Linked DNA regions of Homo sapiens. The protein of the gene in region 2 purifies or fractionates together with the protein of the main gene of each other region. This does not show direct contact. Each region holds a gene or a part of one and is shown on either strand. Other genes may lie near its edges.

Region 1 (3,500 bases), on a different chromosome or scaffold from region 2:
TTCATTACTGATCCTAGGAAAATTTCAAATATTTACTGTCCAGAAACATCAAAGAAACAATTAAAAAAAAAAACCCTCTCAAATAATATTTTACCTGCATCTGTAAGACTGCATCGGTCTGTAACAGAGTAGTTTTTGCTTGGGCATCAAATACAAATGGATATGTACAGATTGTAACAGGGATATCTGCCAACTGGAAATAAAAAATTAACTTATTAGTACAAGTTGATTTGTGATATACTTACTGTGGATGCTGACATTTCTTATAAAGTGGACTACATTCTTTGTTTATTCACTCATGTGGTTCTGGAATTACAAATAAAACATGCTGCTTACAGAATTATTAAAAATTAAATGAGGCATTGGAATGAACCCAATTCCCAATTTTAGGGGGCGACTGTATACTTGAGAGTCTATACAATCATATACTGCAAGTATCTTTTGCTTAGCATATGTTAATTGCAAATCTCAGTGAATGAGGTTGCAAATTTGTTCTAAAATTGGGGGCTCCTATGTTAAATGCGATAGCCAATTCTTACATGTTAGGGCAACTGCAGCAACTGAGGCTAATGATAAGTAATCTGTCTATTCCTTCATTTAACAGATATTGAGTATAATGTCATTAGGGTATCAAAATTATTATGAGTCCAATAATCTCTTCATTTACTTAATATACAAAAAAGTACCATTAGTATTACTATTCTGTTAGCCTTTAAAGTTACGAGAACTGATCTATTATTATCATTATTAGACATTAGACACTTTATAGACAATTACTTATCCTGGCAGGTAATATATTGATTGCTAAGTATTTTAATAGTGCAGTAAAATATAAAGAGTTATGAATTGCCAGTCACACATTCTTGTAGTTGGAGGACGACCTACTTCTACCATCTACCCAGTAAAACAATATCTTTGTGCCTGCCCTGACTCAGAGCCCCTGCTATGAGACTTCTAATGAAGAATTAATACACCCTAAAACAATCCACTTCTTAGTGATTAGACAGTTCTTTATAGTCTGAATCTGCATTTTTTTTTCCCCCATACAGAGTCTTGCACTGATGCCGGGGCTGGAGTGCAATGGTGCGATCTAGGCTCACGGCAACCTTCGCCTCTGGGGTTCAAGCGATTCTCCTGCCTCAGCCTCCCGAGTAGCTGGGATTACAGGTGCCTGTCACCACACCCGGCTAATTTTTTGTATTTTTAGTAGAGATGGGGTTTCACTAGGTTGGCCAGGCTAGTCTTGAACTCCTGACCTCATGATCCGCCCACCTCGGCCTCCCAAAGTGCTGGGATTACAGGCGTGAGCCACTGTGCCCAGCCTGAATCTGCATTTCTATATATCACTATGCATCATTTAGTCTTTGCTTTGCCCCTGCTGGGAAGTGTACGTAGTTTAAATATTTTAAGTCCTAATCATGCTCTCCCTAAATTGTATTTTATTACATTCTAAACATTCACTCTTCAGTATTTTTCATGTGACAAGGTTTACCTCCATCCTATATTTGTGGCACTGCCTAGCTAATGATCATAAAAACTAATTTTACTTCTCTGAAATTCAAAAAGATTTAGATATCTCCAAAGCACCCTTTGGCTTCAAAACTCTATGTTTTCATAATTTTATGTGCTAATTCTATTTGACAATGAGGAAGCAAACAATATTAGAGCTATAATTTAAAGCTAACTCAAAATGCTTCATTGGTTCAAGTGCTGGGAAAAACATAGCAACCAACAAAATGCAAATCAAAGCAAAACCTGACATCTATAACGGATAAAGAAAGTATTATAATGTTCCCAAGTGTTAAAAGGGTAGTCTAGGGTTGTTGATTACTTAAACCAAAGTGCTAGAACTTTATATATTAGAAGTGAGAAAGATAATCATACAAAAAGTTTAACTTTGTGACCATTCTGAGTATCAATTAATCAATTTTAAAAATGAAGTTTGTTTTACTTCTCTAATATAAAATGTTTTCAGCCACATTAGGTAGGCATTTGCTAAATTTTAAAATAAAAGTTTGCTTTTTTATATTCTGAGGACACATTACATTTTATACTGGAAGACTTGAGGAGGACAGAAACTATTCTAAAGCAAATATTGTTGAGGCATCATATAGGTGTAATGTTAACAGAATTTCATTTTCTTCAGAAAACTTCTGAAATGTTATACAAGATAATCTCTACAGACTGTATTTTAAAAAATGATACATATATATCTATTTATTTACATTTTTTAACCACACCAAAAAAACGAATCTTTGGCTCTTCTATTACTCAGGAGAAAATGGAGTATATTTTACTCTAAACATGAGCTTTATTACACCAAACTTACCTCAGTTAATCCATGGTTGACATCCTAAGACAGCAGTGCAGAATATAACAATAACGAGGAAAGAGCAATATTAGTGTCCAAATTTAACTATTTCTATTCAAGGTAGCATTTCATATATTTTGCTACAGCAGAATATTGAAGTAATGAGGTAGAAAATACATCTACAATCAAATACACCCCCTACACAAGCATCTTATATATCTACTAATGTAAGATCTTTGTTTCAGGTACCTTGTGATCATAAAATGATTGAGGCTTGAACATAATGAAATTTGTTTTCAGCAATTAAACACCCCCATTTGCAGAATTTAGGCAGAATAAGAAAACTAATCCTATGCCTGGCTTGGTCTTAAAAAAAAAAATTTATGGCTCAGTTTTTCTACTTAAAAAAAATGGAAAAAACATTCCTCAGACTTTAAGACTTTAAAATCTCAGCAAAATGTCTGACAGTGTTTAGTAGATTAAAATGCCATATGGACACAAAGTAAGAAAAAATAAGCCATAAATTGTTTTTATTTGACAGAAAAAAAAACAGTAAAACATAAGGTATCTTACATTAAGCATTCTTTAAAACTGAATTAATTTAAAATAGAAAGTACAGGACAGGGAAAAAGGGTTGGTAAGCAAAAAGAAATGAAGAGAGAAAGATATATTTATTAAGGCAGTAATAGTGGAAATTATAATGAAAGCTTACCACTTTATTGAACAGAAATGTACATTTTCTTGTAGAAAGTTTCCACATATGCTCAGAGCACAGACTCGTGTAAAGCACCAGAATCTTCAGAAATATGTTACTAAATTTGTGGACGGTGCCTTGTGTTGTGAGGAATTAATTTTACCCCAGAAGAGAGGGCATTGCCCTGGGTTACTAGGAGGTGACCTATAGACCTGTGCAATATCATGCCTGATAGGAGTGTCTTTGTTTGCCTGGCGCTTTAGCCACTGGACAATGTGACTTATGATAGGGGCTTGGGCCATGTGCTGTCAGTTCTGCTTCCAGAAGAGCTGGGAACTAGAGGTCACTACGGGAGCAGGATGTGATTGAACCCCAGTAAAAACTCTGGGCACCAGGGTTCTGGTGAGCTTCTTTGGCTAGAAATACTCTGTATTGTTACACATCTATGCCAGGAAAGTAATTCATCCATGACTCTACATGGAAAGGACAACAGAA
Region 2 (4,039 bases):
ACAAAACCAATTTTACCATAGACTAATGGATACAAACAAGAGTTAAGTTCCTAAGGCAAATGTCTGGTCACAACATCATCAAACTTCTAAAGACCCCAAACGCTTCCAATATCAGACATTAAAATAAATCTGAGCTATATACACATTTAAGACGGATTAATAAAAACAGATAAGATAATTATTTACCCTGTTATTCCAGTACAGGGCCATGGGTGGACAGAGCGCATCCTAGCAGCTCAGGGCAATGGTGGGAACAAACCCTGATTAGGAGCCATTCCACTGCAGGGCACACTTCCTCACAAACTCAGACTGAGATAATTTAGATATGTCAATTAACCTAATGTATACATCTTTGGGGTTTGAAACTGGAGCACCCGGAGACATAGGGAGAGTGTGCGAACTCCACACAGTGTCCCTGGCTGGGAATCGATATTTTTCTCATCAACATCATAACAATTATAACATTATAACAAAACAAAAACATTTTTCAAGGACCTGCTATAAACAAATGCAGATTTTAAGAATACATATAGATTAACAGCAATACATACTTCTCCCATTGCAGTTGATAACCCTTTCCCAACTCTAGTCTCCATTCAACAGCAAGACAACAAAGGGTATTGTCAGGAGTGGAGTAAATGGCTGTTACTGTTGTCTTAGCCATTGATTCAGAGATTTCTGTCCTTAGAAGTATTCTCTTATATTCGCATGAGCTAATGATTTCTTGTGACCTTCTTAAAAGGGCTGAGTTTTATTAAATATCAACTCCAAGAGTATTGTTTGGCTTTGCCTAATGTCTACTTCGTCAATAAATCAGGTGGATATTAGTATGCTATAGACCTATTTATGAACTAGGGAGAGGTGAGGGTAATGGATATCAAAATAATGATAAACAAATACTTGTATGGTGATACTGTGGTTTAACTCCAAAGCCTTATGGCTTCATCTGAAAACCAGGAAAATTCCTTCAAACAGATTTCTATCCAATGATATTTCTATCCAACATTAATTCTGTGATATCATTTAAAGAAAAATCTGACAAATGTTTTCTTACATTATATTCATGAGATTTTATCCAGCATAAATTCATGATGTTAAATGAGTTCTGCATTCTGACTGAAGGTAATCTTTCATTTTTTCTTTTTTCAGGACTTATCTCGAGTATGCAGTTTTTGATGTTTAACAAGGTTTGAACTCCTGTTGAAGGCTTTACTACATTCCTTACATTTGAATGGTTTCTCTCCCGTGTGAATCATTTGGTGTCGAATAAGAGAGGAGCTCCGGTTGAAGGATTTTCCACAGTTAACACATTGATAGAAATTGTTTCCAAAATGGAGTGTTGGATTATTACTGTCTTCACTTTTACTGAAGGCCTTTCCACATTTATTGCTTGTGCAGGCCTTTGCTTCAGCATGAAGTTTTTGATGCTTAGTAAGGTTTGTACGTCGGTTGAAGAATCTCCCACATTCACTGCATTTATAGGGTTTCTCTCCTGTGTGAATGATCTGATGTCGAATAAGGGATGAACTTCGGCAGAAGGCTTTCCCACATTGATAACATTCATAGGAATTCATTGTAGTATGACTTTTTTGGTGTCGAATATCTGTACTCAAACTCAAGTCATTCCCATATTCATATTCTGAATGTTGCTTACCTACTGAGTCTAAATTAAATTTGAAGTAAGTTTTAAACTTATCACATTTTGGAGACCCCTTTCTTGAAGGAATTCCCACTTGTATAGCACAAATTGAGCTAACTGAATTAATATCAAAGCTTTTCTTATTTTCACTACATTCAAAATCTTCCTCCTCAGTGTAAATTGTCTCAGGAATGAAAGCCTCTTGTGGCAAATTTATGTCCCATTTTTTCTGGTTCCTATATAACCAATTCTCACCTTTCCAGGCATCTGAAGAAGGGTGTCCACTTTCGGTAAGCCTTGTCATAATCACTCCATGGGATGATTCTTCTCCAGAAATACTCTTCATGTCTAAAGAGAAATAAAAAATGCCATGAACTAGAAGGGAAACTGCTTCAATAGGAAATGGAGGCTGAACTGTATAAGGTATATGCATATACCACGGGTCTTAAATACAGAATGGAAATGTGAGGCAAGGTTAGAAAAAAATACTTATAAAAGAAATAAATGGTACAAAAATGTTAAAAGGAGGTTAGTAAATAAAATAGGAGAGCTATTCTGGAATACTAAAAAAACGGTATAGGGCTCGAGTAAAATATCTTTACATGAACAAGGATGCGGGTGGCATATCATATCATAATTCAAGTTATCACTGGTTCGTAACTAGTGTATGAAGTCTCTGCCTAATATTCCTTCTTCTAGCATCTTGTTTATCCCAAGCTGTTTACCAATAAATATTCCTTTCTATAAAACACCAGTAATAATTTTAAGAACATGTCTGTATTCCCAGGCACCATACCTTAACCAGCTAAAAGCAAACTTGCAATCATAGTGCCCCCATTTTCCATACAGCCACAATTACTCCCTACATATAACAAAGGCAAAAAGAACTCTAATATAAGATAGCAGGAAGTCCTTTTTCTGGGCTCAAAATAACTCCCAATTCCAACATTAGTGCTTTGGTACTTTTCTACTGTACTTCCTAGAATTCAAAACTTTACCGTTCTAATTAAGATTGGGTCTCTTCCTTTCACCTGTCCTCATTTCCGTTTTATTTAATTATGTTCCACTTCCTTTCTCAAAATTCCTCTCATTTAGCTTCTATATACTCTGTATACTCTATATTCTAGCAATTTTTTAAAAATTAAATTTCATATATGGAGCCAAGATGGCCGAATAGGAACAGCTCCGGTCTACAGCTCCCAGCGTGAGTGACGCAGAAGACGGGTGACTTCTGCATTTCCATCTGAGGTACTGGGTTCACCTCACTAGGGAGTGCCAGACAGTGGGCGCAGGACAGTGGGTGCAGTGCACCCTGCGCAAGCCGAAGCAGGGCGAGGCATTGCTTCACTCGGGAAGCGCAAGGGGTCAGGGAGTTCCCTTTCCTAGTCAAAGAAAGGGGTGACAGATGGCACCTGGAAAATCGGGTCACTCCCACCCTAATACTGCGCTTTCCCGACAGGCTTAAAAAATGGCGCACCAGGAGATTATATCCTGCACCTGGCTCGGGTCCTACACCCACGGAGTCTCCCTGACTGCTAGCACAGCAGTCTGACATCAAACTGCAAGGTGGCAGCGAGGCTGGGGGAGGGGCTCCCGCCATTGCCCAGGCTTGCTTAGGTGAACAAAGCAGCCAGGAAGCTTGAACTGGGTGGAGCCCACCACAGCTCAAGGAGGCCTTCGTGCCTCTGTAGGCTCCACCTCTGGGGGCAGGGCACAGACAAACAAAAAGACAGCAGTAACCTCTGCAGACTTAAATGTCCCTGTCTGACAGCTTTGAAGAGAGCGGTGGTTCTCCCAGCACGCAGCTGGAGATCTGAGAACGGGCAGACTGCCTCCTCAAGTGGGTCCCTGAACCCTGACCCCCGAGCAGCCTAACTGGCAGGCACTCCCCAGTAGGGGCAGACTGACATCTCACACGGCCGGGTATTCCTCTGAGACAAAACTTCCAGAGAAACGATCAGACAGCAGCATTCTGGTTCACAAAAATCCGCTGTTCTGCAGCCACCATTGCTGGTACCCAGGCAAACAGGGTCTGGAGTGGACCTCTAGCAAACTCCAACAGACCTGCAGCTGAGGGTCCTGTCTGTTAGAAGGAAAACTAACAAACAGAAAGGACATCCACACCAAAAACCCATCTGTACATCACCATCATCAAAGACTAAAAGTAGATAAAACCACCAAGATGGGGAAAAAACAGAGCAGAAAAACTGGAAACTCTAAAGAGCAGAGTGCCTCTCCTCCTCCAAAGGAACGCAGTTCCTCACAAGCAACGGAACAAAGCCGGACGGAGAATGACTTTGACGAGTTGAGAGAAGAAGGCTTCAGATGATCAAACTACTTCAAGCTACAGGAGGAAATTCAAACCAAAGGCAAAGAAGGTGAAAACTTTGAAAAAATTTT

Evidence for each region.
Region 1: the proteins of ZNF215 (region 2) and HERC4 purify together in Homo sapiens (affinity purification with mass spectrometry; one large-scale study listed by BioGRID and IntAct). This does not show direct contact.

What each region holds. Positions count from the first base shown.
Region 1 is NC_000010.11:67,956,784-67,960,283, forward strand, and holds part of HERC4 (probable E3 ubiquitin-protein ligase HERC4), read right to left. Parts: intron 2,354-3,500; coding exon of another isoform or gene 2,330-2,353; intron 194-2,329; coding exon 95-193; intron 1-94. UniProt on the Homo sapiens protein: Probable E3 ubiquitin-protein ligase involved in either protein trafficking or in the distribution of cellular structures. Required for spermatozoon maturation and fertility, and for the removal of the cytoplasmic droplet of the spermatozoon.
Region 2 is NC_000011.10:6,953,638-6,957,676, reverse strand, and holds part of ZNF215 (zinc finger protein 215), read right to left. Parts: intron 1,988-4,039; coding exon 1,146-1,987; 3' UTR 1-1,145. UniProt on the Homo sapiens protein: May be involved in transcriptional regulation.